4 linked regions of the Homo sapiens genome follow. The protein of the gene in region 1 purifies or fractionates together with the protein of each later gene. This does not show direct contact. Each region holds a gene or a part of one and is shown in the gene's direction. Other genes may lie near its edges. The genes, in order: ZNF786, NKTR, PCDHA13 and GPALPP1.

Region 1 (10,727 bases):
AGACCATCCTGGCTAACACGGTGAAACCCCGTCTCTACTAAAAATACAAAAAATTAGCCGGGCGAGGTGGCGGGACCTAGAAGAACCTGTGAGCTGACCCTGACCTGCCGCTTCAGTTTGACCTTCACAATGTGAGCCTCAGCCTCATCGCACAGCATGTATCTTTCTCAAGTGCATTATATTCTCTCATGACTCTCGTCTGTCTGGAATGCCTTCCCTCCCTCACATCACCTCCCTCACATTCCATGATTCAGTCCAGAGAAAAGGAATGTTTTAGCTATATGCTTGTCTCTTCTCCCAGCACCTCTAAATTCCTTCCTCTAAAGCACTCCCCACTGAAACTCTGTCTGCTTCCCCTCATAGCCTGAACCCCTGGAGGGCATCTGTATGCTCTTGTTTTTGCATTTTCTCCACTTAACACACACCTGACATAGAAGACATTCTAGGGCTAAGCGTGGTGGCACACCCAGTTACTTGAGAGGCTGAGGTGAGAGGGTCGCTTGAGCTCAGGAGGTTGAGGCCAGCCTGGAGGACATAGCAAGAGCCCGTTTCTAAAAGGAAGAAAAACAAGACATTCTAGAAATTCTTCTTGAATGGTCAGAAGGAGCGATGAATTGGGTTTTGGGTACTGAGGATAGAAAGGATGGATATGAAAAAAAGGTAAAGAAGATTAAGCAGGGTTTGGTGACTGGGTCACATGAGGGAGAAATCAAACATTCTTGAAATCATGTCTTTCAGTCCCACTAGATGGGAAAGGAATGTATGTACATTTCAAAGCTGTCACAGGTGATTCTGACATGCTAATTTTGTATCATTACTCTTCCTCTCCCATTTTCTTTCCAAACAGTGAATTTGAGAAAAACCACTCAAAAATTTTTTTTTCTTTTTTCTTTTTTTTTCGAGATGGCTGTCACCCAAGCTGGAGTGCAGTGGCACAATCTTGTGCAGCTGTCACCCAAGCTGGAGTGCAGCATCACCCAAGCTGTCACTGTGTCACCCAAGTTGGAGTGCAGTGTGGCGCAATCTTGGCTCATTGCAACCTCTGCCTCCCGGGTTCAAGCGATTCTCCTGCCTCAGCCTCCTGAACAGCTGGGACTACAGGTGTGCACACCATGCCTGGCTACTTTTTGTATTTTTAGTAGAGACGGGGTTTCACCATGTTGGCCAGGCTGGTCTCGAACTCCTGACCTCAGGTGATCTGCCCACCTCGGCCTCCCAAAGTGCTGGGATTACAGGCATGAGCCACCACACCCGGCCTGCAGTTAAAATTTTATGTCTTCTTCCTAAAACTAAAGACTATTTCATAGTTAGGATTTTTGCTGGGTGGGGTGTTTCAAAGGTTTCTATTTGACATGTTCAGTTGTCAGTGCCCTGCACTGTAGGCTTTCTCTTTTATTTTATTTTTTAATTTTTTTTTTTATTTTTTGAGATGGAGTCTCACTCTGTCGCCTAGGCTGGAGTGCAGTGGCGTGATCTCGGCTCACTGCAACCTCCACCCTCCGAGTTCAAGCGATTCTCCTGCCTCAGCCTCCCAAGTAGCTGGGATTACGGATGCCTGCCACTGTGCCCGGCTAATTTTTTTTTGTATTTTTAGTAGAGACGGGGTTTCACCATCTTGGCCAGGCTGGTCTTGAACTCCTGATCTCGTGATCCACCCACCTCGGCCTCCCAAAGTGCTGGGATTACAGGCGTGAGCCACTGTGCCCGACCTCTCTTTTCTTTTTTAAATAGAGACAGGGTCTTGCCATGTTGCCCAGGCTAGTCTTGAACTCCTGGCCTCAAGTTATCCTCTGCTGCCTTCGCCTCCTAAAGTGCTGGGATTAAACCAGTGAAACATGAGGCACAGCCCACTGTAGGCTTTCTACTCCTTAGAACATCTGACAATACCAGCTACTATGGAGAATATGGAGCAACTAGAGTTCTCACACATTGCTGATGGGAATGCAAAACAGCATCATGCCATTCTAGAAAATGATTTGTTTCTTATAAATATGTACTTACTGAATGACCAGCAATCCCACTCTTGGGTATTTATCCTAGACAAATGAAAACCTCTGTTCACACAAAAACATGTACATGACATGGCCAGGTGTGGTGACTCACGCCTGTAATCCCAGCACTTTGGGAGGCCGAGGCAGGCGGATCGCGAGGTCAGGAGATCGAGACCATCCTGGCTAACATGGTGAAACCCTGTCTCTACTAAAAATACAAAAAAAAAAAAAAAAAAAAAAAAAAAAGTAGCCGGGCGTGGTGGCGGGCGCCTGTAGTCCCAGCTACTCTGGAGGCTGAGGCAGGAGAATGGCATGGACCTGGGAGGCAGAGCCTGCAGTGAGCCAAGATCGCGCCACTGCACTCCAGCCTGGCCTACAGAGCGAGACTCCATCTCAAAAAAAAAAGAAAAAAACACTTACATGAATGTTTGCAGCAGCTCCCTTCAGAATTGCTAAAATTTGGAACAATCCAAATGTCCTTTGATGAACGGTGGCTATACAAACTGTGATACATCCATAGTACTAATGCATTTTTTTCTTTTCTTTTGAGACAAAGTCTCCCTCTGTCGCCCAGGCTGGATTGCAGTGGTGTGATCTCCACTCACTACAACCTCTGCCTCCCGGGTTCAAGTGATTCTCCTACCTCAGCCTCACAAGCAGCTGGGACTACGGGCAGGCGTTATCACGCCTAGCTAATTTTTGTATTTTTAGTAGAGACAGGTTTTTGTCATGATGGCCAGGCTGGTCTGAAACTCCTGATCTCAAGTGATGCGCCCACCTCGGCCTCCCAAAGTGCTGGGATTACAGGAATGAGCCACTGTGCCTGGCCTGCATTTATTTTTCTTTTTGGAGACAGGGGTCTCGCTATATTGCCCAGGCTGGCCATGAACTCTTGGGCTTAAGGGATCCTCCCACCTCAGGATCCCTTGAGGGGACCTACAGGTGAGAGCCACTACAGCTGGTGCTCCTTAATAACATTGATACAGATAACAATGTGGATGAATCTCAAAGGTATAGTGAGTTGAAGTATGTTGTAAACTTTTATAAGTCTCAAAAGGTTACATACTGTATAATTCCGTTTATATGACATTCTTGAAAGGTAAAACTATAGGGACAGAAATAAATCAGCCCTTGCTAGGGGTTACAGATATAGGAAGGGAGGTGGATCAAAAGACATTACAAGATGGCTGGGCACAGTGGCTCTCACCTATAATCCCAGCACTTTGGGAGGCCCAGGCAGAGGATCACTTGAGGCCAGGATTTTGAGACCAGACTGGGAAACATAGCAAGACCCTGTCTCTACACTTTTTTTTCTTTTTTTTGAGACAGAGTCTTGCTCGGTTGCCCAGGCTGGAGTGCAATGGCGTGATCTTGGCTCAATGCAACCTCCGCCTCCTGGGTTCAAGTGATTCTCCCACCTCAGCCTTCCCAGTAGCTGGGATTACAGGCACCTGCCATTATGCCTGGCTAGTTTTGTTTTATTTTTTGAGATGGAGTCTCGCTCTGTTGCTCAGGCCAGAGTGCAGTGGCGTGATCTCGGCTCACTGCAACCTCCACCTCCAGGGTTCAAGTGATTCTTCTGCCCCAGCCTCCCGAGTAGCTAGGATTACAGGCGCGTGCCACCACGCCCGGCTAATTTTTGTATTTTTAGTAGAGACGGGGTTTCACCATGTTGGCCAGGCTGGTCTAGAACTCCTGACTTCAGGTGATCCGCCTGCCTCAGCCTCCCAAAATGCTGGGATTACAGGCGTAAGCCACCGCGCCGGACCAACAATTTTTTAAAAAACAAAACAAAAAAGCTATTTAAGGGCATTTTAGAGGGTGATGAAACTTCCAATAGCCTTGTAACCGGGCCCCTTGAGACTTCAGCATTCTGCAGTTCTTAAGGACTGAATAAATGAAAATTCTGATCAGGCCCTTGCTTGTTTGCATGTTTTAACCACTTGCTTTTTGCCCAATATTCCTTGTTCTCACAATATAATTACATACTGCTGATGTACTGTTTGATTGTCAAGGAGAAGGAGATAACTTCAGGGTCATGAAAAATTGTTGCAGGGGGAATGCCTTCAGGGTCGTTGTGGCCAGCCCCTGACGCCCAGAAGCCTGATTGCTCAAGGTGTTATCAGAGACTGAAGAAACACAGACTTTCCCCCTTGGTTCCCTGAAACTCCCCCTCCCTTACTCTCTAGCCCCATAAAAACTCCCTGCTTCCTTTTGTTAAGACAGATTTTAGAGATTTGCTCTGCTGCCTTCTCGCTTTGGCCAAATCAATGAAACCTTTTTGCATCTCCAAGCACCGGTGTCTCAGTGTTTGGCCTCAGCTGCCCATGAGGTACACAAGCCTGATTTTGGGGTTTTACAACAGCCTGATTATGATGTCAGTTACATGTTTATGCATATGTTAAAATTTGGAGTTCTATGTAGTAGTATAGAAGTTATACTTCTATATAACTTACAGTTATAAAAAAAGTTAATAGTTAAAAGTTCATGGCAGGGTGCAGTGGCTCACACCTGTAATCCCAGCACTTTGGGAGGCCGAGGTGGGCGGATCACGAGGTTAGGAGATGGAGACCATCCTGACTAACACGGTGAAATCCCGTCTCTACTAAAAATACGAAAAATTAGCGGGGCAGGCATGGTGGCATGCGCCTGTAATCTCAGCTACTCGCGAGGGTGAAGCAGGTTTTTTTGTTTTTTGGTTTTTTTTTTTTGAGACAGAGTCTCGCTCTGTCGCCCAGGCTGGAGTGCAGTGGTGCGATCTCAGCTTACTGCAAGCTCCGCCTCCCGGGTTCACACCATTCTCCTGCCTCAGCCTCTAGAGTAGCTGGAACTACAGGCGCCCGCCACCTCGCCCGGCTAATTTTTTGTATTTTTAGTAGAGACGGGGTTTCACCGTGTTAGCCAGGATGGTCTCGATCTCCTGACCTCGTGATCCGCCCGCCTCGGCCTCCCAAAGTGCTGGGATTACAGGCCTGAGCCACCGCGCCCGGCCAGCAGGAGAATCACTTGAACCCAGAGGCTGCAATGAGCTGAGATCGTGCCACTGCACTCCAACCTGGGCAACAAGGGCAAGACTTCGTCTAAAAAAAAAAAAAAAAAGTTCATAGCAGTATACATTAAAAAATTGTACTGTATACACTTCGGGAGGCCGAGGCGGGTGGATCACCTGAGGTTGGGAGTTCGAGACCAGCCTGACCAACATGGCGAAACCCCGTCTCTACTAAAATACAAAAAATTAGCCGGGCATGGTGGCGCGTGCCTGTAGTCCCAGCTACTCGGGAGGCTGCGGCAGGAGAATAGCTTGAACCCGGGAGGCGGAGGTTGCAGTGAGCCGACATCCCACCACTGCACTCCAGCCTGGCGACAGAGCAAGACTCTGTCTCAAAAAAAAAAAAAAAAAAAAAAAAAAAAAAGCCAGGCGCGGTGGCTCACGCCTGTAATCCCAACACTTGGGGAGGCCGAGGCAGGTAGATCACAAGGTCAGGAGTTTGAGGCCAGCCTGACCAACATGGTGAAACCTCGTCTCTACTAAAAATACAAAAATTAGCCGGGCGTGGTGGCAAATGCCTGTAATCCCAGCTACTCGGGAGGCTGAGGCAGGAGAATTGCTTGAATCCAGGAGACAGAGGTTGCAGTGAGCCGAGATTGCGCCACAGCACTCCAGCCTGGGTGACAAGAGTGAGACTTTGTCTCCAAAAAAAAAAAATTGTACTGTATAACAGTTGTAAAAATAAAAAACGTTAAACAGTAAGGTGCATGTACATTTCACGATTCTGTGGCAAACACAGATGCGTATATGCTCCTCAGCCTACGCAGGGACTATTTTATTTCTTATGCACATCCTCTCCAAACTACACACTTTTCCTTTGCTACTTCAGCCTGACACCTAAGACATGACTAAGACAGAATGCGAGGTTGATTTTCTGGAGACAATCGCCACCCCCTTCCTCGCCCTCTCTCCTTTCTGTCTCTTCCTGGTTTCCCCACCTCTCCCCTGTTCTTGCGTTCTCGTGTTTCTCACGCCCTGTGTCATGGCCTCCTCCGTCTTCTCCTCCTACTCTGTCTCTGTCTCCTGCCGGGGCCCGGGGTGCCCGACCGCAGCCTTGGGCCACCCTGAGTCCCTGCAGGCGGCCCTGAGGCCGGGGTGGCTTCCGCATGGGGTCTCTGCCCAAGGCCGTTCTCTGCTAAGGAAGGAGCGTGGCCGCCCGGGGAGCCCGGAGGGCTCTAGACCCACGGCGACCGGACCTGGTGGGCGGACCCCGCCTCCGCGTCCCCGGCGGGACAAGCATGGGGCCCCCACGGCCTCCGCGCCCCCGGCGGGACGGATGCCCCGGGCCACCGCGGGCAGCGCGCGCCCCCCACCCACTTTCCGGCCTCGCTGGATTCCCGGGACCCCCTCACAGACGAAGCCTGTCTCGGGGGCGGCTTTGGGAGGAACCGCACCGGAGGTTCCCCTCTCGCTGCCTCTCAGTCTGGGTTTCTGTGGAGCGCGTCTCCCTGTCCCTGTCCCTGATCTCTCCCTGTCCCTGTCCCTGATCTCTCCATGTCCTGCCCCTCCGTTTCCCCTCCGGCCAGCTCCTCAGCTTGTCTCTGACCGCTTCCCTCCCCAGATCCCGGGAATCCGAGGGTCCCTCAAAGACCGGCGTGCTGCGGCCTGCTCTGAGGGCGCCCGGGCCCCTGGGTCCCTCCTCTGAGGACCGACGCTCAGGCAGCGCCGCTTCTTCCTCCCGCAGGAGGCGCTGTAGGACTGAGCGGCAGCCGCGGCCGGGCGCCGGGTCCCAGCATGCACCGCGCCCGGCCGGCGCTGCGTTTGGGGGCCACCCGGGCTGTGCGTGGGAGTCGGGTTGGGGCGGAGCGGAGGGGAGTCAGTGCGCAGCAGGGCAGGTTCCTGCGGAGCCGCCGGAGACGGTCGGGTTTGCCAGGGCCGGGCGGGACCGCGGGGACCATGGCGGAGCCGCCTCGGGTAAGCGGGCTAGCCTGTTTGGACGCCCGGTTTCGGGGTCGTGGTGGGTCCTCGGGTTCCGGGCTCGCCCGTGTCCTGGGGTCCCCGTGAGTGCGCGCGGTGCACGGGTAGGACGGAGTCTGCAGGCTGCTTCTGCTGGGGATGTGGATTCCGGGCCCTGCGGTGAGCAGGTGGCCTCCGCTCCCGCGGCTTGTCCGTGGCCAAACCCCTGGACAAAGCCGAGCGTGGACCGAGGCCGACCTAGGAGCGGGGCGGAGCCTGGGCGAGGATGCCGGGCGGACGGGGAGCGGACGGTGGAAAGGATAGAAAGGTTTGGGGCCAGAGGTGGATGTTACAGGTCAACCAGTTTTACATCATAGTCACCGAAATCAGAACAACTGTTCCAAAAAGTTTAAGATTCCGAATGGTTGAAATGGTGTTTGGCGGGGGCTTCAATGTCAGAATTTATTGTCTAGCGTGATTTGGGTTGAGTGTAAGATGATACGTTGGGAAGAGTAGAAGAGGATACAAAAAATTAAGTTAGTGGTTTCTTAAAATCGAGGTTTAGAGGGTATTTTTATCTTGTAAACTTTAATGTTGAGGATTTTTGCTGATTATTAAATGAATTAGGCCGGGCGCGGTGGCTCACGCCTGTAATCCCAGCACTTTGGGAGGCCGAGGCGGGTGGATCACGTGAGGTCGGGAGTTCGAGACCAGCCTGGCCAACATGGTGAAACCCCAACTCTACTAAAAATACAAAAAATTAGCCTGGCATGATGGCGGGCGCCTGTAATCCCAGCTACTCGGGAGGCTCAGGCAGGAGAATTGTTTGAACCCGGGAGACGGAGGTTGCAGTGAGCCGAGACTGCACCATTGCACTCCAGCCTGGGCAACAAGAGCGAAACTCCGTCTCCAAAAATATATACATACCTATATATATGGGGAAAGGATATAAACAGCCAAATCACAGACCTGAAAATAAATTATTAATGAGTAAAAGAATGGATTTTAAAACTTGTGACATTCAGGCCAGGCGCCGTGGTTTACGCCTGTAATCCCAGCACTTTGAGAGGCCGAGGTGGGCAGATCACTTGACGTCAGGAGTTCAAGACCAGCCTGGCCAACATGGCGAAAAACTGTCTCTACTAAAAAATACGAAAATTAGCTGAGTGTGGTGGCGGACGCCTGTAATCCCAGCTCCTCGGGAGGCTGAGGTAGGGAGAATTGCTTGAACTCGGGAGGTGGAGGTTGCAGCGAACTGAGATGGCGCCACTGCACTCCAGCCTGGGCGACAGAGCGAGACTCTATCTCAAAAACAAACAAACTTGTGACATTCAGACGGTGGAACACTATACAAAATTAAAATAAATTAGCTACATATATGATCAACAGGGCCGGGCGTGGTGGCTCACGCCTCTAATCCCAGCACTTTGGGAGGCCAAGGCGGGCGGATCACGAGATCAGGAGATCGAGACCATCCTAGCTAACACGGTGAAACCCCGTCTCTACTAAAAATACAAAAACAAAAATTAGCTGGGCGTGTGGGCGGGAGCCTGTAGTCCCAGCTGCTCGGGAGGCTGAGGCGGGAGAACCCGGGAGGCGGAGCTTGCAGCGAGCCGAGATCGCGCCACTGCACTCCAGCCTGGGCGACAGAGCAAGACTCTGTCTCCAAAAAAAAAAAAAAAAGAAACTCAACAGGGCCAGATCCCAAAATGTTGAGGGAAGAATACAAGTATAATAAAGTATTTACGTATAAAAGACACAAAGTAATACTGAATATTTACAGATACATATATGTATTAAAATGAACTGGAAAGTTCCCATATTATTTATAATGTTTGCCTTTACAAAGGAAGGAGAATGTGACAATATCAGAACATGATTGAAGAGAGGAACCACAAGAACTTGAGTTTCACCGGTCACATTCTATTTCATTAAAAGGAACTCTGAAGAAAAATGTTAAACTTGTTAAGTCAGTGGTGAATACTAGGATGCTTATAGTTTTCTCTGTAACTCTCTGGATTTTTAAACTTCTAAAAATTAAAAAAGTTTTAAAAGTAAGGAATTTTAATCAGAGAAGAGGAGAGAATGAGTATCTTTAACACAAGTATAAACATACGTTCAGTTCTGCAATAATACAGCATATGCATTTCTAAAAATCATAGTGCTATGCAAAATTGTGCAATAAAAACCACAGAGCTTATTGGGAGAAATGTTACACATACAATACTCAAACTTTAATCAGTGATGTGTTGAAAGAACCTAAAAGCAGTTTTATGCACTTTAATGAGTAATAAATTATCTCAATTGCCTTAAAAACTGCCTGAAATAAGCCTGGGCAGGCCAGGCGTGGTGGCTCACACCTGTAATCCCAGCACTTTGGGAGGTCCAGGTGGGCAGATCACCTGAGGTCAGGAATTCAAGACCAGCCTGGCCAACATGGTGAAATCTCATCTCTACTAAAAATAAAAAAATTAGCTGGACGTGGTGGCGGGCACCTGTAATCCCAGATACTCGAGAGGCTGAGGCAGGAGAATCACTTGAACCTCGGAGGCGGAGGTTGCAGTGAGCTGAGATCGTGTCAATGCATTCCAGCCTGGGTGACAGAGCAAGACTCGGTCTCGAAAGAAAGACAAAAAAAAAAAAAAAAGCCTGGGCAACATGGTGAGACCCCTCTCTACAGAAAATTAGCCAGGTGTGGTGGCATATCCCTGTGGTCCTAGCTACTCGGGAGGCTAAGGCAACAGAATCACTTGAGCCCAGGAGATCAAAGCTATGGTAAGCTGTGTTGGCACCACTGCACTCTGGCCTGGGCAACAGAGACCCCCGTTTCAAAAAAAAAAAAAACCTAAAAGAACTACCTGAAATGTGCTTGTGGAAGTGGGCATAGCAAGGGTTGCAGTTTGTGAGCTATTGTGAAGTGGTGAAAGGAAGGTTATCTGAAATGAGATGGAAAGTTGTGACCCCGGAGGTGAATGGGTAGGGCTCATAACACAGGGTAATCTGATGTTTGAAGTGTGTTGCATGTGTGCATTTTGCGTATGTCTATGCAGCCCAGTTCTGTTTGTTCACATAGTACAAAGTTTCTCACCCTTGCCACTACTAACATCCTGTGCTGGATAATTTTCTGTTTTGCAGGCTGTCCTGCGCATCGTAGGATGTTTATCACTATTCTTGGCTGCTACGCACTAGATGCCCATAGGCCACCCCGCTTCCCCACATTATAACAATAAAAAATGTTGCCAGGGGACAAAATTGTTCTGATTGAGAACCACTAATCTAGTGTTTCTTATAGACAGAATTGCACATAAGCAAATGCAAAATTTTGTAATATATTGTCTCCTAATAATCATGTTGGAACAAATTCACATTTCAAAACAAGGATTATAGCAGAAATGACTATATTTCCTTAAAGTTAAAATAATGAATTTCTGATTTAAGTGTTGCTATATCTGCAGTTTGGATATTTGTCCCTAAATCTCATGTCAAAATTGGATTTGCGGCTGGGCACAGTGGCTCACGCCTGTAATCCCAGCACTTTGGGAGGCTGAGGCAGGTGGATCACCTGAGGTCAGGAGTTCAAGACCAGCCTGACCAACAAGGTGAAACCCTGCCTCTACTAAAAATACAAAAATTAGCCGAGCATGTTGGCAGGCGCCTGTAGTCCCAGCTGCTTGGGAGGCCAAGACAGAATTGCTTGAACCTGGGAGGTGGAGGCTGCAGTGAGCTGAGATCGTGCCACTGCATTTCAGCCTGCCTGGGCGATGGAGCAAGACTCTATCTCAAAAAAAAAA
Region 2 (6,303 bases), on another chromosome or scaffold:
TCGAAGTAGAAGCCAGAGAAGTGACAGTTACCACCGAGGCAGAAGTTATAATCGGCGGTCCAGGTGGGTCTCTCTCCTTTATCGTCCTTTATCGCACTGTAGGCCACGGTGGGCACTTGATGTGGGAGGGTGATGGGCTGCTAGTGGAAGAGAAAGTGGTATAATCTTCCAAGGACAGAAATACTTCTTCCTTTAAATCTGAACAACCCACAAGCAGCCACTAAAAGTGGCTTTTATATTAAGAGTTGCCAGGTAATATTTGTTGGTTATTATTAATGTTTGAATCTAAAATGGGTTTCTAAATATTCACATATCTTGGACAGACCTTTCTTTTGGAAAGAAAGAAGGCCACCCAAACCATGGCCACTTGCTTAAATAGAACCACTTGCTAGCAGTAGCCAGTTTCTCATTTTTTTTAAATAAAAAAATACATAATATAATTTGCTTCAGCAGCAGGATTGAGGTTTATATGTTGTCAATTATTTAGTAAAATACATTTTTTATGTATTATATGTATTATGTTTAACATATTTTGGCTTCTGCAAAAGTCTTTATGTTAACTTTTGTACTGTCCTTTTCTGGTGGCTTCTGGTCTTGCCTTCCCCTGTCCATTGCAACTGCAATGATGCTTGTAAATATCAGTCTGATCTGGATACTCCCTTGCTTGAAACTCTTCAAGGACTCCCTGCTGCTTTCATGATCAGGTCCAGCCTCCTCAGCACCAACTCCAGCTCACACTCTTTCTGGCTTCCCTCCTTTAAAGTGTTGGGACTTTTCCTTCTGCCTGGAGACACACGTGTCCTCTTCACCATCTCCCCTTTTGCCACTTGAAATGGCCAGTTCCCATCTACCCTGCAGATCTCCACTGTCCCTGGGCAGCCCTCCCTGATGCCTAATCCTAGGATACAGTCCCTCCCATGTGCCTCTAAGACAGCCCTTTGCTCCTACTGTGGCTCCCCTTGCTCCTAAATTACTTGTCTTGCTGACTATTCTATTCTGTCCTTGAACCCCAGAGAACTATACTTGGTTTTGTGTCTTTGTGTGTGTGTGTGTGTGTTCCCAGCATCTTGCAAAATGCCTGGCTCACAGTGAATGTTTTTCAAAATAACTGAATGGGACCCATGACCAGGTCCTCTTGACTCAATATCCCAGTGGTCCTGTTCATGCCCAGGGCCACCCCCACCCCTCATTGGACCCCATTTTGGTTTCCATTCCTTGAGTGAAACTATTTGTGCACCTTTTCCCCATTACTTTTCTCAGGTAATCTATTCAAATATTGATACTCATTTTGGGTAATATGGGGAAACTATTCTGCTCATTGGTTTTTTGTTTTTGTGGTCCCAGCATTTGCATGAATGAATTTCACACAAATTTCCTAAGATGTGATGTTTCTTTATTTTATCTTAATCTTGACATTACTACAACTTGTCATTTAAAACAGCTTCAAAAAGTCCATAGTGTGAGTCGGGCACGGTGGCTCACGCCTGTAATCCCAGCACTTTGGGAGGCTGAGGCAGGTGGATCGTCTGAGGTCAGGAGTTGAAGACCAGCCTGGCCAACATAGTGAAACCCCGTCTCTACTAAATAAAAAAAATTAGCTGGGCGTGGTGGCGGGCACCTGTAATTGCAGCTACTAGGGAGGCTGAGGCAGGAGAATCACTTGAACCCGGGAGGTGGAGGTTGCAGTGAGTTGAGAGCATGCCGTTGCACTCCAACCTGGGCAAAAAGAGTGAAACTCCATCTCAAAAAGAAAAAGAAAAGTCCATGGTGTTGCCATAGTCAGTACCCTACCTCTGTGTTATGCTGCATCAATAGTGCATCAGTTATATGAGTGGCTTGAAAACACTATTGATGTTTTCAAGCCACTCATATAAAAAACAAGCTATAAGAGGAATTCAAAGATTTTACAGTTACAAGATTTTTATATATTTTGTTTTGTTATTACAGGAGTTGTAGATCTTATGGCTCTGACAGTGAAAGTGACCGAAGTTACTCTCATCACCGGAGCCCCAGTGAGAGCAGCAGATACAGTTGAAAACGTCCGGATACAAATTATATCTTATTTGTAAATATCTGGCAACTTAGCTTAAGAAATGTAATGACAGTCTGTTGTTCTATTTCAATATCAGAGGTGAATTTCAAAAATAGACACTTCTTAATTGTTACTGGTTCATTTACATGTGGGGAGAAGAATTTAAAATACAGATATGTCTCCTAAAAATATTTTTATGCCACATTTTACAGTAGCCAACTATGGAAATGAATTTCATTTTCTTGAATCAAGAAATCGTGAAATTTATCTATGTATAATTTGCAATATTATTTTAAGTCTATTTCACTCTATCTTACGTATCCCTTAGAATACAGATTCTTTTTGCCTGTTTTTCCAGTTTTAGCATATATGCTGCCAAGCATAGAACTGTGAAGGAGAACTGTTAAAGGCGGCCAAATATTTATATACTGATTACATAGAGTCTTGTACATATGTGCTCTAAAAACAAACCACCCAGAATTGATACTGTTGGTAACCAGGAGTATAAGGCAGTGGCTCTGGGGTTCTTAATTCATTCCTAACTTCTTTGATACTTCACAGGATTAGGAAAGTGGTCATCATACATCCCACACAGTCTGTATTACTTCAGGCTTGTGGGCAAGGTTAGGAAGAATCAATCAGCCTTAACTATAAATACCTGCACTGTCTCTGAGGACTTACTATTTTATGTTCTTTTTAATCAATACCGATCAGAAGTTTAGGTTATAAAAACAATTCTACTTCATGCTTTGGTGCTTGGTAATTTTTGGTGCGTCTTTAAGCATTACTCTTATATATCATATATTAAAATACCATAAAAATGAAATTCAGACAAAATCACTGGCACCAAAAATGGTTTATTCTGAGCTGTCTTCACTTTGACTATTTGGGGGGCTTCTCTCAAGTACAGATGTGGGTTGGGGTCCCCTGGAGCAGGCAGGATTGGCAGTAAGAGATATTGGCCACTCAAGTCTACTGTGTGTGTGTGCCTCTGGAAGAGTGAAGAATGGACTTCAAAAGTAACATCAAAAATCTAACTGCCACCATCCTGGAGACATTTTGCAGGGCTTTCCTTTCAAGTCTTTCAAGTACAGGATATTACCACAACAGCAGCTGAACTGTTGTAACCAGCATGTTTTTCCTATTTCCACTGTGACCTGCAGCTGACTCAAAGCCTTGCGTGACCTGACCCAGGTGCAAGAGACAGGGGAAGAGGGATAGAGGGTATAGCATAAATTACATATTTTCATGGCTTTGGGTGGTTCCTCCAAAAATAATTGGACCTGTAAAAACTAGTGTGTGTGTGTGTGTGTGTGTGTGTGTGTGTGTGGTTTTTTTTTTTAATCTTTACTTTGAATTTGTTCCCCAAGTGTACTTAATCACCTTAGTGCCAGTTTAATCCAGTTATGCAGAAGAAATTCATATTGGTTGCCTGATGTAGAGCTCAGCACCACCCTACCACAGGCCTTGTCTGGTGTATTTGGGAAGTGGAAAAGAGCCCTCAGTTGGAGGGAGCTGACAACCCTTGGTGGAGGGAGGGTGCCCTTGAATGTATTAAAACTATCACCCAAAGAAGGTATGAAAACAGGGTAAGGTGGTCAGTTGTTTGCCAGGTCAATAGACAGAAAGTACATTAGAAAACAGGACTTAGGCCAAACAAACAATACTGGATACTGAATACAAAACAGTATGATTTATATTAAAGGTTTCCAAAGGTTGCCTGCAAAGGAGAATATTACTACTAGTCAGCAGGAAAAAAATGCATTCAGAACCCAAGCAGAAACTGCCAAATGTAATTAGGTTAAGAAAAGTTACCCTTGGGCAGTGTATTAGTTTTCTATTGCTGTGTGACAAATTACCCCAAATTTAGCAGTTTAAAAAACAATACCCATAGCAGTTCTGTAGCTCATGAGTCTGGCACAGTGTGGCTGGATTCTCTGCTCAGGGTCTTAAAGGCTGAAATAAGGGTTGGCAGGACAACATTCCTTCATGGAGGCTCTGGGGAAGAATCTGCTTCTAAGTTCATTCAGGTTGTTGGCGGAATTCAGTTCTTTGCTGGCTCTCAGCTGGAGGCCCCTCTCTCACCTCAAGGCTGCCTGCATTCCTTCTTATGTGGTCCCCTCCAGCTTCAAACCAGCCTTCCTGCTCTTTCTCATGCTTCATATCTCTCTCCCGTCCTCCTGTTTTAGGGGCATATGATTAGCTCAAGCCCACAGATATATTTTAAGGTTGATTGTGCGATAGAACATAATTGCAGGAGTACTGTCTCATCTCATCATATTCACGGGTTCTGGAGATTAGCTCATTGAAAGTGGGAGGGGCATTTTCAAATTCTGCCTACCACAGGCAATAACTGCCCATCTCAGCTGTAGGTGGAATTTTTACCCAGAAAAGATAGGCCCTAGAAGCCTCATTTCTTTTCTCCATGGAAAAGGACAGCCCTCTGCTGCAGCGTTCAACTTGTGTGTTTACTGACAGAGTGAACTACAGAAATAGCTTTTCTTCCTAAAGGGGATTGTTCTACATTTTGAAGTTATTTTTTAATAAAATTGAATTATGTTGTGTATTGTGCTTCTTAATAGGAAATGCATTATTGGACTGTTTTTGTAACATCCTGTTTATTGCAAATAGCTAGTATCGTTCAAAAACTGTATAAAATACTTTTGTACATATTAGCAATGTCTAATTTGTATACACTTCAGTTAAATTTCCCTAAAACTTGAAAGGGGACCTTGTAGAAATTAAAATATATACTTAGTCTAAGTCTGAGTCTGTTCATGTTTTATCTTTCTGCTGACCCAGCCAGTGAAGACACCTCATCTCCTTTGGCAGCTCCTTTTCTTCTCCTAGCTGAGTGTTAGTGGTGGGTGTAGGAGGTGGAGCTAGAGAGAATGTCAGGCAGAGATTTTAACCTACACAGGTAAGCATTAATGATGTTTGGTCTTCCTCCCCTGGAAAATCCAGATTTCCTCTACACTTTGTTGTCATCTAGTTAAAATGACCTGCATAAAGATGTCTTTGCTGAGGGAGGAATATGTCACATCCCATGTGTGAGTTTCTACCTAGAGACAGTCCATTTACCTACAGCCTCTACATTTCCCTCCCTAACGGCAGCGCACTAGGCAGTGCAGCACATGTCACTCACTCCCAGAGAAAACATTCATGGTGATATTTTTAGTATACACATAAGAATTTGCAGGGGAAGTACAATTAACTTTTGTCTCCTCAGAACTGAAAGGAATGTCTATTTTCTTAGTGAATACAACATAACTTATTGTAGTTAACTTCTCACTGCAGATACTCAGTTTTTAAACTGAGTTAACAGTGGACTCCTTAGTTGGGCAACTCCTGAAATTTGTCAAATCTGGATGCATTCCTTTAAAATGTAAAGAAAATGCAGGATCAAGTTCTGATAGTGGTAAACTTGATAGTTGGGCAGTATTGGGGGGAAAATGTGCCAAGGACTTTGGTCTTGACTCTTCTGAATTAGCTGGGCATTAAATAGGCGGGAAGGTAATTCAAGGAAAATGCCCCTCTTGCAAGAGATTATGGACACTAACTGGGCATCACTGTTTAGAAGAGACGGGAGGTGGCCAGGCATGGTGGCTCACGCCTGTAATCCCAGCACTTTGGGAGGCCAAGGCGGGTGGATCACTTGAGGTCAGGAGTTTGAGACCAGCCTGGCCAACATGGTGAAATCCCGTCTCCACTGGAAAAAAAAAAAGAGGCTCTACTCAGTTTTTCAAGGCAAATGCTGAGCCTTGAAGGAGTGTTGCAAACTAATGTGGTCAGGTGAAAGGATGTGGAAGCCATGCCTCACAAGGTGAAACGGACTGGGTTCAGATTTCCGGAGAACTCTGGTTTTTGGAACAGAGAATCAAGTCTGCTGTTCCCCACAGTGAGGCAAGAGCCTGCAGGCCCATGAGGGCCTTGTGGTAGAATGAGCTGGGAAGACAGCAGGGAGAAGTTCTTTGATGCAGTAAAGGCCCCTCAGGAGTCCAGAGGTGTCAGGGGAGGACGCTGGGTACCCTGAAAGAACACCTGTTCATCTCAGGACAGACTGGGAAGCTTGTCGGGGCCTGGTAAGTGCAAGGCAAGGAGAGCCTGCCCTGGCCACATACACACAGGGCTAGGAGGCTTTAGTGGTCTGTTTTCTTTCAAAGTTTCAGTACAAGGTAGAGATAGTGCTCCCTTGCTGCTGCCTCCACTCCTCACTGTGAATCAGAAGGCCCCAGGTAGGCCTGCTGCCTCTTGGAGACCCCAGACCCACC
Region 3 (9,753 bases), on another chromosome or scaffold:
CGCGCTGCAGCCGTTGGACCACGAGGAGCTGGAGCTGTTGCAGTTCCAGGTGAGCGCGCGCGACTCTGGCGTGCCGCCTCTGGGCAGCAACGTGACGCTGCAGGTGTTCGTGCTGGACGAGAACGACAACGCTCCGGCGCTGCTGACGCCCGGGGCTGGCAGCGCGGGAGGCACAGTGAGCGAGCTGATGCCGCGGTCGGTGGGTGCAGGCCACGTGGTGGCGAAGGTGCGCGCGGTGGACGCCGATTCGGGCTACAATGCGTGGCTTTCGTATGAATTGCAGCTGGCGGCGGTCGGCGCGCGCATCCCGTTCCGCGTGGGGCTGTACACTGGCGAGATCAGCACGACGCGCCCTCTGGACGAGGTGGACGCGCCGCACCACCGCCTTCTGGTGCTGGTGAAGGACCACGGTGAGCCCGCGCTGACGGCCACGGCAACGGTGCTGTTGTCGCTGGTGGAGAGCGGCCAAGCGCCACAGGCTTCGTCGAGGGCGTCGGCAGGCGCTGTGGGTCCAGAAGCGGCGCTGGTGGATGTCAATGTTTACTTGATCATTGCCATCTGCGCGGTGTCCAGCCTGTTGGTGCTCACGTTGCTGCTGTATACTGCGCTGCGGTGCTCGGCACCGCCCACCGAGGGCGCGTGCGCGCCGGGCAAGCCCACTCTAGTGTGCTCCAGCGCGGCAGGGAGTTGGTCGTACTCGCAGCAGAGGCGGCCGAGGGTGTGCTCTGGGGAGGGCCCGCATAAGACGGACCTCATGGCCTTCAGTCCCAGCCTTCCTCCTTGTCTGGGTTCTGCAGAGGGAACAGGCCAGAGGGAGGAGGACTCAGAATGCTTGAAAGAGGTAAGCTTATATTTTAAAAAATTGTCTTAGTAAACACTTTAGCCTTCCTTGCAGTTGTTTGTTTAAGACATCTTTCCTGCCAATTTCAAATTATTCTTTACTTTAATTTTAATTTTGCTAGTTGTTATCGAATTTAACAACTCTGCTGTGGACATTATGTGTTGGATTATCCTTCAGAGTGAAATCTTAACTCACAAACCATAATGAAATGTGCAAAACAAGAATATTTTGTTTCTGTTGTATTCTTAATAGTTCTAAGTATTTATCTTGCAATTGAGCATTTACAAAAAATTCCTCACGTTGTGAGAACTTAAACATTTAGAAAATGTTTGTTTTAATGAGGCTAATCGTAATCTTAAATTTAAAAAATTTTTAGTTTAATGTATACATATACCCACAAGATATTATTTTAAAGAGCCCCATAACTTTTCACATAAATGCTTTTTTTAAGTGCACTTTTCTTTCTTTCTTTTTTTAAACTGTTTTGATTGTCTCTACTTTTTTGTCCTCTAGGCACATCAGTGTTCCCCTCTCATATATCCCATGAAAAATATCTTGTGATTCTGCTTTCAATTTTTTATTTGCATTCAGATAATTACTCATACATATATATATACATATATAGAGAGAGACCTGGTAGGCTTTTTGTTATTATTTCTTTTCCAAAGTTTGAAGGGATTTCCAAAAGGTACTGGTGACTGAAAGTACCTTTTGGCAGTCCCTGCAAATCTAATGGTTTTAATAGCTGTGTAGTATTCCACAGTGTAAGTGTGCAATTATATATTATTTACCTAATGATGGGCAATCACTTTGTGTCAAGTGTTCTGTTATCTTCATGAACCATGCTGTGCTATCATTTCATATATTTCCCAAAATATTGGTGTTATTTCTACGAAATTGATTGTCAGATGTGGAATTGATGCATCAAAGATATTAATAATTTTAATTATAAAATATGTCACTGGATTGCCTTCCAAGTATTTTGGAACCAACCAGTTATGAGCACTCTTTCTATCTCAAGAAGCAATAGTGGTTTTACTTTCTGCTAATGTGATCTCTGTGAAATGATATTTCACTGTTACTTTAATTTTAAATTCCTGTATAGTATTAGTGAATTTGAGCATATTGTCATATGTATTTTGTTGATTTGTATTTGATCTTCTTTGATTTATCCATTAAGTTATTTGCCTACTTTTCTATTGAAAAAAAATTTTTAGTTTCAGTTTGGAAAAGTTCTCTGTACCTTATAGATATTAACTGTTTATCTATTTTTTGACATTTTTAATTAAAATTTTTATTTTGAGATAATTATAGATTCGCATGTGGTTGAAAGAAATAGTAAAGGGAGATGCTATGTATTCTTCACTAAGTTTTCCCCAATAGTAACATCTTACAAAAGCGTAGGGCCATACCACAACCTGGATATTGACATTGATACAGTAAAGAAGTAACATAGTTCCGTAACAACCAGATTCTTGATATCACCTTTTTATAGCCACATCTGCTTCCCTGCCTAATGCTGGCAAGCAGTAATCTGTTCTCCATTTCTCTAATTTTGTTACTTTTACTTCAGAAATAAATAAAAGTATCTCTATTTATAGATAAAATTTTTTAAAATTATTTTTATATTTATTTATTTTTTATTACACTTTAAGTTCTGGGATACATGTGCAGAACGTGCAGGTTTGTTACATAGGTGTACATGCCATGGTGTGCTTATCTATTATCTGCATCACAAATATGTTTTCCTCCTATATTATTTCTATTCATTTGTTTGTACTAATTTTGTCATATATAAATGTTTTTAAAATGTATGAATTAAAATATATCTTTTTCCTTTTATGGATTTTAAGGTCTGCATATTCAGTTAGAAAGGTCTTCCCAGCTGGGCACGGTGGCTCACGCCTGTAATCCCAGCACTTTGGGAGGCCAAGGTGGGCGGATCAGGAGATCAGGAGTCCGAGACCAGCCTGGCCAACATGGTGAAACCCTGTCTCTACTAAAAATACAAAAATTAGCGAGGCATGGTGGCACGCGCCTGTAATCCCAGCTACTTGGGAGGCTGAAGCAAGAGAATTGCTTGAACCCGGGAGGTGGAGGTTGCAGTGAGATGAGATCATGCTACTGTACTCCAGCTCTGGGTGACAGAGCAAGACTTCGTCTTGAAAAAAAAAAAAAAAAAAAAGAAAGGTCTTCCCAACTCCTATATTGAACATTCATTAATTAAATGCATTTAATAAATACTTATTGAGTGTTCTCTATGTGCCAGGCATGTTCTACACATTAGACATTTAGCAACGAAATTTATTATTTTGTAAATCCAAATTTCCAGTTGGTATCACTTTCCTACTGCCTGAAAAATTTCTTTAATATTTTTTATAGTGCATATGTTCTGGCAACAAATTCACTCAGCTTTTGTCTGAGAAATATCTTTATCTCTTTTTTTTTTTTTGAGACGGAGTCTCACTCTGTCGCCCAGGCTGGAGTACAGTGGCGTGATCTCGGCTCACTGCAAGCTCCACCTCCCGGGTTCACGCCATTCTCCTGCCTCAGCCTCCCGAGTAGCTGAGACTACCGGCGCCCGCCACCACGCCCTGCTAATTTTTTGTATTTTTAGTAGAGATGGGGTTTCATCTTGTTAGCCAGGATAGTCTCGAACTCCTGACCTCGTGATCCACCTGGCTCGGCCTCCCAAAGTGCTGGGATTACAGGTGTGAGCCACCGCGCCCGGCTCTTTATCTCATTTTTATTTTTGAAAAAGTATTTTCACTGGGCATAGTTGACAGTTTTTTAAAAGATATAATTCAGTTGTCTTCTGGCTTGCATAGTTTCTAATAAGATGTTTGCTTTTTTATATATGAGTCTTCCTCTCCCCACCCCTCATGGTTACTGTTAAAACTTTTCTTTTTATCCTGACTTTTGCAGATTGATTGTGATGTGCTTTAGTATGGTTTTCTTTATGTTAGTCTGTTGGGGTTTGTTGATATTCTTGGATCTGTGGATTTATCATTTTCATCAAATTCAGGAAAAAATCAACCATACTTCTTCTAATAGTTTTTTCTTTCCTTCCATCCTTTCTGAGACTCCAGTAACACATATGTTACAATGACACAGGTCATTGAAGCGTTCTTTATTTTTGTCCATTTCTTTCTCTGTGCCTCATTTTGAATATCTTTTATTGACATATTTTCCAAGTTCACTAATTTTTCCTTTTGTAGTATCATATCTGTTAATCCTAAACAGTGTATTCTTCATTTCAGAGACCATATTTATTTCTTATCTGTATAAGATTCTTTTTGTCTCTTTTAAAATTTATTTTACATGTCTCCACCGAATAGTCATCTTTTTATCTATATGTTTGAGCATATTAGTACATGTATAATAGATGTTTTAACTTTCTTGTCTGCTAATTTCAACATTTTTGTCCTTAGTTTGCTTCTTTTAATCTATCTTCTTCTATGGATATATTTTCTTGCTGTTTTGCATGACTGGTAATCTCTAATAAGATGCTAGACATTGTGAATTTTACATTGTCGGATGCTGGATTTTGTGTGTGTGTGCATGTGTGTGCGTGTTCCTTTAAAGCAGTAGTTCTTGATAAGAAACAGTTTTGTCCCCTCTACCCCCTACCCAGGAGATAATTTGGCAATGCCTGGATACATTTTTGGTTATTACAACTAGGGAATTGCTACTGGCATCTAATAATGGAGCTCTGAGATGCTGCTAAACACCATCCAATTGCTGCCAAACATCCTACCGTGCACAGGACAGCCGCCCAACAATAAAGAATTAGCTCAAAATGTCAGTAGTTCCACTGTTGAGAAACTCTGCTTTAAAGAGTCTTGGACTTAGTTCTGACGTGAAGTTAAGTTGCTCAGTACCAATTTATTCCTTTCAAGGCTTCATTTTAAGATTTGTTAGTACACATTCAGAGCAGCTTTTAGTGTAGCACTAATTCGGCCTTCTATTACAGCAATACTTTCCTGAGGACACCACCTAATGCCCTGTGCATTAAGAGGTCTCTCTTCTCTGATTGGTAGGAATGTGAAATATTTCCAGCCCTTTGTGAGCTCTAGGAATTATTCTACCCACTTTTTTTTTTAATTTTGAAGGGATAGCCTGATCTGGGGAGGTTGATCAGTGATCTGTGATCTGTGATCACATCACTCCACTGCAGCCTGGTGACAGAGTGAGACCATGTCTCAACATAAAAATTAAAACATTAGAATTGAGGTTTAATGTTATCAAATATTTTATCTGCATCTTTTGAGGGAGGTATAAATTTTTTCTTTGGCAATGTTAATGTGTTGAATTTATGATTTATGATTTTCTTATGGCAAACCAACCTCTACTTCCTTGGATAACCGTAATTTGATTATAATTTATAATCCTTTTAATATACTACTTATTTTGTTAAATTTTCAAAACAATTTTTTCATCTTTATTCCAGGTGATACTGATATGTCCTAGTTTTTCTTCCTAATTTCTTCTTTGTTAAGTATTCAAGTTATAAATAAGAATCTAGCATAACTTGAATACTTAACAAAGAAGAATAGTCTTTGAAAACTTCCAGAAAATTTTCTGTTTCCTGTAAAAGTTTGTATAATCTTTGAATTACTTCTTATTTGATTGGAGAACTCACTGTTGAAGTTATCTGTATCAGGATTTTGATTGGTGGGAATATTTCTGATTACTGACTCAATTTTAATAGTATAAGGACCATTCAGAGTTTAATTTACTCGAGTCAGTTACGTAGATAATATTTTTTCAGGTATTTTCCTGTTTAATCTAAATTTTCAGTTATATGCTCATACTTTCTACAGAATCTATAGTGATATTTCCCTTTCCATTCTTGATATTATTTTTGCTTCCTGTCTAATTTACTTTTCTTCAGAATTCTGCTTTCTGATTTTTGTTTTTGCTTTGAAATATTTTTATATTAATTATACTGATTCATTTCTCTTCTTTTCATTTGTGTTTGCAGGAGATGTCCTCTTCCCAGCCTTTTATTTTAAACCTTTTAGTATTATGGGCATATTCCACAAGTTCTTTGCTACTGTCTCACTGAGTAGCAGAGTCTAATTTTTCTTTCCTTGAACTTTGACTGGTCTTAATATTGGAAGTAACATTCTGGGATTTATGAAGTCAGGTCATAAGAAGTCTTACAGTATGCTTTGGTCTCTGAGAATATTTGTTTTGGGGGAAGCCTGCCACCATGTAAGAATTCTGACTACCTTGAGATTGTCATACTGTAAAGAAGCTCAAGCTGGACTTGTGAGAAGCCAAATGGATAGAAAAATTACTATCCAGTCTCCAGTTGTCTTAGCTTTCCAAGCTTAGGTGCCAGAAAAATGTAGAAGGCTTCAGGTGACTGTAGTGTGTTGGAGCTGGCTCTTTTACTGGCTTATGAGAACTGATAATGCAAATTTATTCCCAACTCTGGATTCAATGATGTCACTTTGGTAGCTTGAAATTGGCCATGGTAGGAGTATTTCTGCCACAGAAATAGGCAAATGCTACAAAACAGAGTTTTTTGTTTTTCTTTTTTCCCAGAGACCTAGTTGTTAAGCATTTACCAGTACACTACTGCACCTGATTGCAAGCAAGAACCACTCAGTTGAGTCAGAACCAGGAGAGGTAATATTAAGTTGTTTTAAGATATTAGGTAGTTGGGATGGTTTACTATATAGCAATGGATAACCTGAACAAGTACTCTTTCTTAGATAATCTATAAATTTTAACTTGAATATTTATTTAGTTTATATTTACAATACCTAGTGATATCTTTAGGCACAAATATTTCAATTTTTTGTGCGTTATTTTTGTCTCACCATTTTTATGTCTCTATTTCCTTCCTTTGTTGATCTTCTTTTGAAATGACTGAGTACTTTTTATTGTTCCATTTCCTTCTGTATTATTTGGAAGCCCTTTTCCGAATAGCTAGTGCTTACCCTAGAAAATTAAGCATGTATCCTTGATATATCAAAATCAAAAGTTAACTGAAACCCTTCCTCCTTCTGGGAAATGCAGGGACCTTACATTTTTAAAATCTTTTTAATCCCTTTTGACTTATATACTATTTCTGTCATGCTTTAAAAATATTTTAAAACCCCATAAGATATTAGTATTATTTTATACAATCAACATTGTTTTAAATGTACTTACATATTTACCAGTTTTGTTTCTCTTCCTTACTTCTTGCCCCTCTGACCTTTCATCAGGGATTATTGTCTTTCCATGTTAGAATAATTTGAGAGTTTCCTTTAGTCCAAAGATGCTGGTGAGGAATGATTTCAGGTTTTGTTTTTCTGAAAATGTCTTTATTTCATCATAATTATTGAAAAGCATTTTTTCTGAGGGTATAATCTTAGGTGTGACCCCCACAGCACATAGTAAATATTATTCCAGTGTCTACTGGTTTCCATTGTTGCTGTCAAGAATTTAGCTGTCAATCTAAATGTCATTCCTTTAAAGGTATTCTGTTTATTTTCCTTTGGCTGCTTTTCAGATTTTCTGTGTGTCTGATATTTTGCAGTTTTACCATGCTGTGTCTTTATAATCATCCTGTTCTGGATTCAGTAGGATTTTTTTTAATTTTTAATTTTTCCGTAAGTTATTGGGGGTACAGGTGGTATTTGATTACATGAGTAAGTTCTTTGGTGGTGATTTGTGAGATTTTGGTGCATCCATCACCTGAGCAGTATACATTGCACCATATTTGCAATCTTTTATCCCTCGCCACCCCCCACTCTTGCCCCCAAGTCCCCAACGTCCATTGTATAGGATTTTTGAATTTGTGAATTAATGCCTTTACATCACTTTGAGCATATCCTCAGCTATAATGTTCTCCAATGTTGCTTCTGTTCCATTGTATTTCTATAGTATTATTTTAGTACTCTAATTAAACATATTTTAATCTTATTACTCTATCCCATCTATTTCTACCTTTTATTTTAACACCTTTTGCTCTTTGGGCTTTATTGTGGATAGTTCACCCACCTTAAAGTTTAATAATTCTCTCTTCTTGCTGTTGTCTGAATTTGTACCCCCAAATTCATGTGTTGAAAATTCAATCCCTTATACAACAGTGTTGGGAGGTGGGGAATTTCAGGAAATGTTTAGATTATGAGGGATCTGCCCTCATGAATAAATTAACGGCACTGTAAAAGGACTTGATGGAAGGAGCCTGTCCCTCTCTTATGCTTTTGGCTCTGTCATGTGACGATGCAGCAAGAAGATCTTCACCAGATGCTGGTGCCTTGATCTTGGACTTCCCCTAGGCTCCAGAATTGTGAGAAGTAAATTTCCGTTCTCATAAATTACTCAGTCTGTGGCATTCTGTTATAGCAGCACAAATGGTCTAAGATACTTTTATTTATTCTTTTTCAAATTTATTGTTACTTTGTATAATTTCTAGTTTCCTCTCGAAACTTTCAAGCTTGGCATTTATATCTGGAACACAATAAGCTCATGGTTTTAGCGTCTATTTCTGATATGTCCAGTAACTGGGATCCTCATGGGTCTATTCCTGTGGTGTGTTTTAAAATTGTATCTTTATGGTGTTTTGTCTCCACATAAACCTGGTTATCTTTGATTTTGTGCTGAAAGTTGTATTAAACACTTCTTCCTGGAAATAATTTGGGGCTTATAACATTTTCTTTCTCCAGAATGGATTTTAATTGACTTTTGCCAGGCATCTTGGGGCACTAGCAATCATGGGTAATCTTAATCTATTTCAAGCTTCAGGTATTCTAGATAAAACCTCATTATCTAAAATTTACATGTATTCTTTAAGTACGGTTATTCAGTTTCCTAGCCAAACATGAGAGATTGTTTAAGAAGTTCCACCATGACTGGTAGACTCAGGATTCTGACTTTTGTTTCTCTAGTCCTTGGAGACTGTCAAAAGTATATCTCAGTATTCATTCACCTATTTTTTTCCTTTTATTTCCAGTTGGTACATAATAATTGTACATATTTATAGGATACAGAGTGACATTTTGATACATATATACAATGTATAATAATAAAATCAGGGTAATTAGCATATTCATAATCTCAAACATTTACCATTTTTGCATGGTGAACATTTAAAATCCACTCTTCTAGCTTCTTGAAAATATGTAAGAAATTATAGTTAACCATATTTATCCTACAGTGCTACAGTGCTGCAAAACACCACAACCCATTCCTCCTGTGTAGCTATAATTTCGTATCCATTAACCAACCTTTCCCCATCCTCCTTTTCCTTCACCCTTCCCAGCCTCTGATAAGCACAATACTACTTCCATGAGCTCAATAAAATTTTGTAGCTGCCGTATAAGTGAGAACATGTATTTATTTTTCTGTGCCTGACTTATTTCACTTAACATATGCCCTCCAGGCTCAGCCATACTGCCATGAATAACAGGATTTCATTCTTTTTTATGGCTGGATAATATTCCGTTGTGCATATACACCACATTTTCTTTATCCACTCATCTGTTGATGGATATTGAGGTTGATTCCACATAGTAGCTATTGTGAATAGTGCTGCAGTAAGTATGGGAGGTGCAGGTATCACTTTGACATACTGGTTTCCTTTTCTTTGGATAAATGCCCAATAGTGGAATTGCTGGATGATATGGTAGTTCTATTTGTAGTTTTTTGAGGGACTCCCATACTGTTTTCCTTAGTGGCAGTGCTAATTTACATGCCCACCAACAGCATTTATGGGACAGTGGCTCATGCCTGTAATCCCAGCACTTAGGGAGGCAGAGGCAGGAAGATCGCTTGAAGCCAGGAGTTCAAGACCAGCCTGGGCAACATAGCAAGACCCTGTTCTTCACAAAAAAGAAAAAAAAAGCAGTTGTAGAACTCCTTTAAGTATTTCTTGTAGGACTTATCTAGTTGTAGTGTACTTCCTCAGTTTT
Region 4 (6,021 bases), on another chromosome or scaffold:
GCTCTTTCTTTCACACCCCGTTCTTGGTTTGTACTCTGATGTTTAGTATTTAAATAACCATAATGCTTTTCATTACATATTTTCTTTATAAATGCTGTCTTGGATTTGGAAAAAAAAAAACTACTGGGGTTTGTAAATAGCCCTCCTTAATGTGCACCATTACTATCTATTCCGTTTCATGGTCATATTCTGTCAATAATCTATATACAAACTATAGTTTTTATTTCTGCTCTCCTGCTCTCTCCAGGAATCAAAAAGATCAGAATCTCTTATGGACATACATCATAAAAAGTTAAAGAGTAAGGCTGCTGAAGACAAAAATAAGCCTCAAGAGAGAATACCATTTGACCGTGATAAAGATCTCAAGGTTAATCGGTTTGATGAAGCTCAGAAAAAAGCCCTAATAAAAAAATCTAGAGAACTAAACACCAGATTTTCACACGGCAAAGGCAATATGTTTTTATAAGTAAGTATATTTCAGTGAGGTATATTTTAATACTGATCAATGTGAACTTTTCTAAATACTCTATTGTCTTTAATAATTGTGCTGAAATCTATTTCCTTTTATAATAGATTAAAAATTTTATATTTTTATAAGTAAACAGTGATTTTTGAAAAGTCAGCCTTGTGGGATGAAAAATATGTCTTACTGGAAAAATCCCTCATAATAACCTAATAGGGCATTGCTATTAAAAATGCTAAAATAAAAATTCAGCTTATGAGAAATGGCAAAGGAAGGTGTGGTTTGATACTTGAGTAAATATGCATGCTTTATTAAAGATGAAGAAAGGCTTGCTGGTTGTTTGTATGTTAAACAAAATCCCAACTAGGAAATGTTTGTTGCTTAGAAAGGTCCCCTATAAGTTAAGGTTCAAAACTATTCCAATATTCATCCATAGCCCAATCTGACAAGGGTTCAGAATGGTGATTAAGAAATTACATAAAGCTGGGTGCAGTGGCTCACGCCTGTAATCCCAACACTTTGGGAGGCCAATGTGAGAGGATCGCTTGAGCCCAGTAGTTTGAGACCAGCCTGCTTAAGATGGTGAGACCCCGTATCTACAAAAAACTAACCAGGTGCAGTGGAGCACACCTATAGTCCCAGCTACTCAGCAGGCTGAGGTGGGAGGATCCCTTGAGCCCAGGAATTCAAGGCAGCAGTGAGCTGTGATTGTGCCATTGCACTCCAGTCTGGGCAACAAAGTGAGACCTCGTCTCTTTAGAAAAAAAAAAAGAGGCCAGTGGCTCACACCTGTAATCCCAGCACTTTGGGAGGGTGAGGCGGGTGGATCACCTGAGGTCAGGAGTTCGAGACCAGCCTGAACAACATGGTGAAACCCCATCTCTATTAAAAATATATATATATAAAAATTAGCCAGGTGTGGTGGCACGTGCCTGTAATCTCAGCTACTTGGGAGCCTGAGGCAGGAGAATTGCTTGAACCCGGGAGGTGGAGGTTACAGTGAGCCGAGATCGTGCCACTGCACTCTAGCCTAGGTGACAAGATCGAGAGACTCTGTCTCAAAAAAGAAAGAAAAAGAGAAGAAAAGAAATTACATAAAAGCTGAGGTTGCTTCTTAATATCTTTATGATTTTTAATTGTATTAAACCTATATCAATATTCAAATGTGATTTTTGAGGAAAATATGTTAAATTTAGAAATATTTTCCAACTTACTGAGTTTTCTTATTCTTACCTCAGGGGGATTTCCCTGTGCAATGAAGAAAAGTTGAAGAATACTCTTTGTCCATCTTTATTTCTTTGTTTTTGGCTTCTTAAGATTAGAGATTACTTTAATCTTAAAAAACATACAAATTTACCTTGTTCTGTATGTCCTTTTAAGGTCATGTGGAAACATAAAACGAATGTTTTTTATGTAGAACAGAATATTCTATGTGCCTTTAGCTTCTGTGGAAGTATGGGGAATTATGGGCTTTTCTTCAAATAATTATTTTAAGAGGCTTCCATTCCCCCTGATTTTTGTGGTGTCTCACAAGTACCCTCTAAGGTCTGGTCAGGACTGACCACCAAATCTCTACCACAGCCTGGACCTCCTTGTGAAATATACCTAACCTGCCCTAGAGTCAGTGTGTCAAGTCCTTACTGTAAATCCATGACTTTGAAATTTGTTGTTTTTTCCCTTTAAACTGCAGCCAGTGAATACAAATTTACTTGAAAATAGAGGGTATGGGGTTTTGCCTGTTTTGTAATCAGTTTGCTTGTTTTAGCACTCAGGGCTTTTTATTTGTTATTTAATTTTTTAATTGTTTTTAAGTCAGAAAGATCTCTGGGTTATCTCATGTGCTAAGGAAAAACTATTTTGCTTTTTCCAACTTTAATAGTTAGTATTTCTAGGGGAGGCAATCAAGATAAGATATGCCATTAACTGTTAGCATTGTGAAATCTGTAAGACTCAATCTCTGATCTCAACCAAAGCTTTCTGAGTCCTGGAACTTTGCTTTGGGACAACTTTACTTTACCCATTTATATGCTGTACTTAACAGTTTGTAGCTAATTTATGGGGTCATATCTTTTTTTTAGCTAATTTACGGGGGTCATATCAGTCATGAATAGCCTTTTTTAAAAATTTAATAATCCCTGAATACAAAAATGGAAATGGAAAATTTATAATCATAACCCCCCTAATTGGGAGTATTATAAGTTTGTAATGCTTTAAGCACTGCCTCTTAAGATGATAAATTTATAAGATGAGAAATTCTATTTAAACTATTAAACTATTGTTAAATAAATGCCAATTCTATAAGTTATATTTTCTTGCAGATTAATCCCAATTGTTCCACTAGTATTCTAGTTTTGATGAGACACAAATTTTTGTTGTTGTTTATTTTTGTTTTTTTGAGAGATGGAGTCTTGCTCTGTCACCCAGGCTGGAGTAGAGTGGCGTGATCTCAGCTTACTGCAACCTCCGCCTCCTGGGTTCAAGCGATTCTCCTGCCTCAGTGTCCCAAGTAGCTGGGACTACAGGCGTGCACCACCATGCTCAGCTAATTTTTGTATTTTTTAGTAGAGATGGGGTTTCACTATATATTGTTCCAGGCTGGTCTCGAACTCCAGACCTCAGGTGATCTACCTGCCTCGGCCTCCCAAAATGCTGGGATTACAGGCATCAGCCACCATGCCTGGCCAAGACACAAATTTTTAATGGAAAAATATTCTGATTCCCAGTTCATGTAAGCTTTATGAAAATTGAGTATATTGTTTATATGATGGTACAAATTATTCTTCCTCTAATAATAGCAGTACAGTATATTTTTTCCATAGCATCAGTGTAAACCATAGCAAACTAAAGGAGCATTGCTATTAAAAAGATGAATTAGCTGGGCGCAGTGGCTCATACCTATAATCCCAGCACTTTGGGAGGCCGAGGTGGGTGGATCACCTGAGGTCAGGAGTTCAAGACCAGCCTGACCAACATGGTGAAATCCTGTCTCTATTAAAAATATAAAAATTAGTCGGGCCTGGTGGCGGGTGCCTGTAATCCCAGCTACTCAGGAGGCTGAAGCAGGATAATTGCTTGAACCTAGGAGGCGGAGGTTGCAGTGAGCCAAGATCACACCATTGCATTCCAGCCTGGGCAACAAGAGTGAAACTCCATCTCTAAATAAATAAGTAAATAAATAGATGAATTTTTCTCCTAAGCAAATTGAAAAAGCTTCTTGTGTACTCAAAATTGAACAGAGCTACCTTTTGACTAAAAATGTCATTTTTAATGAGCAGTATTTTCTGAACACAAAATTTTGTACAAGAGTGTCTCCATTGCATTAATTTAATTTTGTTATAATTTTTTCCCAATGAAAGGAAAAAAGTATTTTGTAGCTCCTCTTCCTTATGTAAATTCTTAACATATATTTTTGAGAAATTTGCATTTTTTAAAGTAAAATTGTTATCTTTGGATACTTACTTTTCTTTGTTTTCCTCATTTAAAGAGAATAGGGATATTTCTGTATTATATATTTACTGTTTCATCCCTCACCTTTGGAGTGACCATGACCTTGGCATGAAGGAGAGAAACCTCTGCTTTCCGCCTATTGCTTCCAGGAGTTACTACCTTACTGGCCTTGGAGATAATGCTCTTTTGTGCCAACCTGAGGATAATTTTAACAAAATGTAAGGCCAGTTTCAGAGGTTGTTTTGCCCCACAGAGAGACTAATCCCAATACAAGAATATTGACAACAAAAGGACAAAGTAGTTATTGCACAGGACGGAAAGGTGTCTTTATTTCATCCCCTCCCCACTTCCAAAGATGCAAAAGGCCTAATTGAATCAAGTCTCCTTTCCATCTGGCAGGAGACATTTTAATAAGGACTTTTTAATTTCCTACATTTCTTGGCCAAGTGTCATAGGAATGTGGCCTCTTTTGAAATTTAAAAATGAAGAAGAAAAAAAGAGCAACACTAAGTTAATATAATGGAGCAGATACTTTTAATGTTCTTACCATTGAATATGCCATTTAAGTTTGTTATACTTGAAATTATATGATTTTTGTCCAGCTCTCTAAATTGTCATCTCCAATAGATTTAGATGCTTCAAATAGTAACCACATTACTGGTAAGTAAACGGTGGGGTTATTGGGTTTAGCAAGTGGGGAAGTAAGGGGTGAACAAAACACGAGAGATGGTGGCTACACCCCTACTAAGACTGCCTTACCAGATAAATGAAATCCTTTTTGTATTAGGCACAACATGGTAAATTAAGTCTTGCTCTAAAAAAAAAGAAAAAGAAAAAAGAGAAAAGCCCTGATCTAAGAGTTTTTAGATGCTAGCAACCTTGTTTAGATGTAGATCTTGTTTAGATGTAGCAACCACTTGACATTTAATTTATCATCTTAACCTTGAATGATTCTTTGTTTTGTTTTTTGTTATTGAGATGGAGTCTCACTCTTGCTGCCCAGGCTGGAGTGCAGTGGCGTGATCTCGGCTCACTGCAACCTCCACCTCCCGAGTTCAAGCGATTCTTCTGCCTCAGCCTCCCAAGTAGCTGGGACTACAGGCGCCCACCACCGTGCCCAGCTAATTTTTGTATTTTTAGTAGAGACGGGGTTTCACCATGTTAGTCAGGCTGGTCTCGAACTCCTGACCTCAGGTGATCCGCCCACCTCAGCCTCCCAAAGTGCTGGGATTACAGGCGTGAGCCACCGCGCCTGGCCTGAATGATTCTTTGTATTAACGATTTATTTAGAAGTGAGGTTGAGATTGGCCAGGTGCGGTGGCTCACGCCTGTAATTCTAGCACTTTGGGAGGCCAAGGCAGGCGGATTGCCTGAGCTCAGGAGTTTGAGACCCAGCCTGGGCAACATGGTGAAACCCTGTCTCTACTAAAATACAAAAAATTAGCTGGGCATGGCGGTGTGCGCCTGTAGTCCCAGCTACTCGGGAGGCTGAGGCAGAAGAATTGCTTGAACCCAGGAGGCGGAGGTTGCAGTGAGCCAAGATCGCGCCACTGCACTCCAGCCTGGGCGACAGAGCGAGACTCCATCTCCAAAAAAAAAAAAAAGTGAGGTTGAGATTTGCATGGTACCAAGGCTTACATGCTTCAGAATAGATCAATGGTTATTGTATAAGTAATTTTATCCTAAAACATTATGACATTTTTTGTTTCTTATTGAGGGTAGATAATGTTAATATTAAACTACTAATAGGAGGCCCTTATCACTTCTCTTTTCATTTTTTCCATGCAGTGATAGGTATTATTAGAAAAAAGTTATTTCTTGAGTTACACCTAAGAGGAAGAAGTAACATGATGGAAAGTGGTTGGAGATAGCACCCAATTAACATCGACAGCCAAGTCTTCTATTTCAGAATATTGATTTATTTCGCTTTGGCTTTTGATGCCATCATGAGATTTAAGTCTGCAGTTTCAAAAGCTCATGCTACTTAGATGATTTTTGCAGCTTAAAAAATTGCTTGTGACTGCAGTATGTACACAGTTAAAAAGCTGTTCACTGCCCCTTTCAACCTTTTCATTTTGAGCTTTACTAAGAGAATGCTTTTAGGAACAGAA

What was found.
Region 2: the proteins of ZNF786 (region 1) and NKTR purify together in Homo sapiens (affinity purification with mass spectrometry; 2 studies listed by BioGRID and IntAct, with this or other methods). This does not show direct contact.
Region 3: the proteins of ZNF786 (region 1) and PCDHA13 purify together in Homo sapiens (affinity purification with mass spectrometry; 2 studies listed by BioGRID and IntAct, with this or other methods). This does not show direct contact.
Region 4: the proteins of ZNF786 (region 1) and GPALPP1 purify together in Homo sapiens (affinity purification with mass spectrometry; 2 studies listed by BioGRID and IntAct, with this or other methods). This does not show direct contact.

Annotation. Positions count from the first base shown.
Region 1 is NC_000007.14:149,086,850-149,097,576, reverse strand, and holds the start of ZNF786 (zinc finger protein 786), read left to right. Parts: upstream 1-6,858; 5' UTR 6,859-6,936; coding exon 6,937-6,954; intron 6,955-10,727. UniProt on the Homo sapiens protein: May be involved in transcriptional regulation.
Region 2 is NC_000003.12:42,643,941-42,650,243, forward strand, and holds the end of NKTR (NK-tumor recognition protein), read left to right. Parts: coding exon 1-63; intron 64-1,947; coding exon 1,948-2,035; 3' UTR 2,036-4,795; downstream 4,796-6,303. UniProt on the Homo sapiens protein: PPIase that catalyzes the cis-trans isomerization of proline imidic peptide bonds in oligopeptides and may therefore assist protein folding. Component of a putative tumor-recognition complex involved in the function of NK cells.
Region 3 is NC_000005.10:140,883,822-140,893,574, forward strand, and holds part of PCDHA13 (protocadherin alpha-13 isoform 1 precursor), read left to right. Parts: coding exon 1-841; coding exon of another isoform or gene 842-871; exon of another isoform or gene 872-1,059; intron 1,060-9,753. UniProt on the Homo sapiens protein: Potential calcium-dependent cell-adhesion protein. May be involved in the establishment and maintenance of specific neuronal connections in the brain.
Region 4 is NC_000013.11:45,027,538-45,033,558, forward strand, and holds the end of GPALPP1 (GPALPP motifs-containing protein 1), read left to right. Parts: intron 1-247; coding exon 248-466; 3' UTR 467-2,768; downstream 2,769-6,021.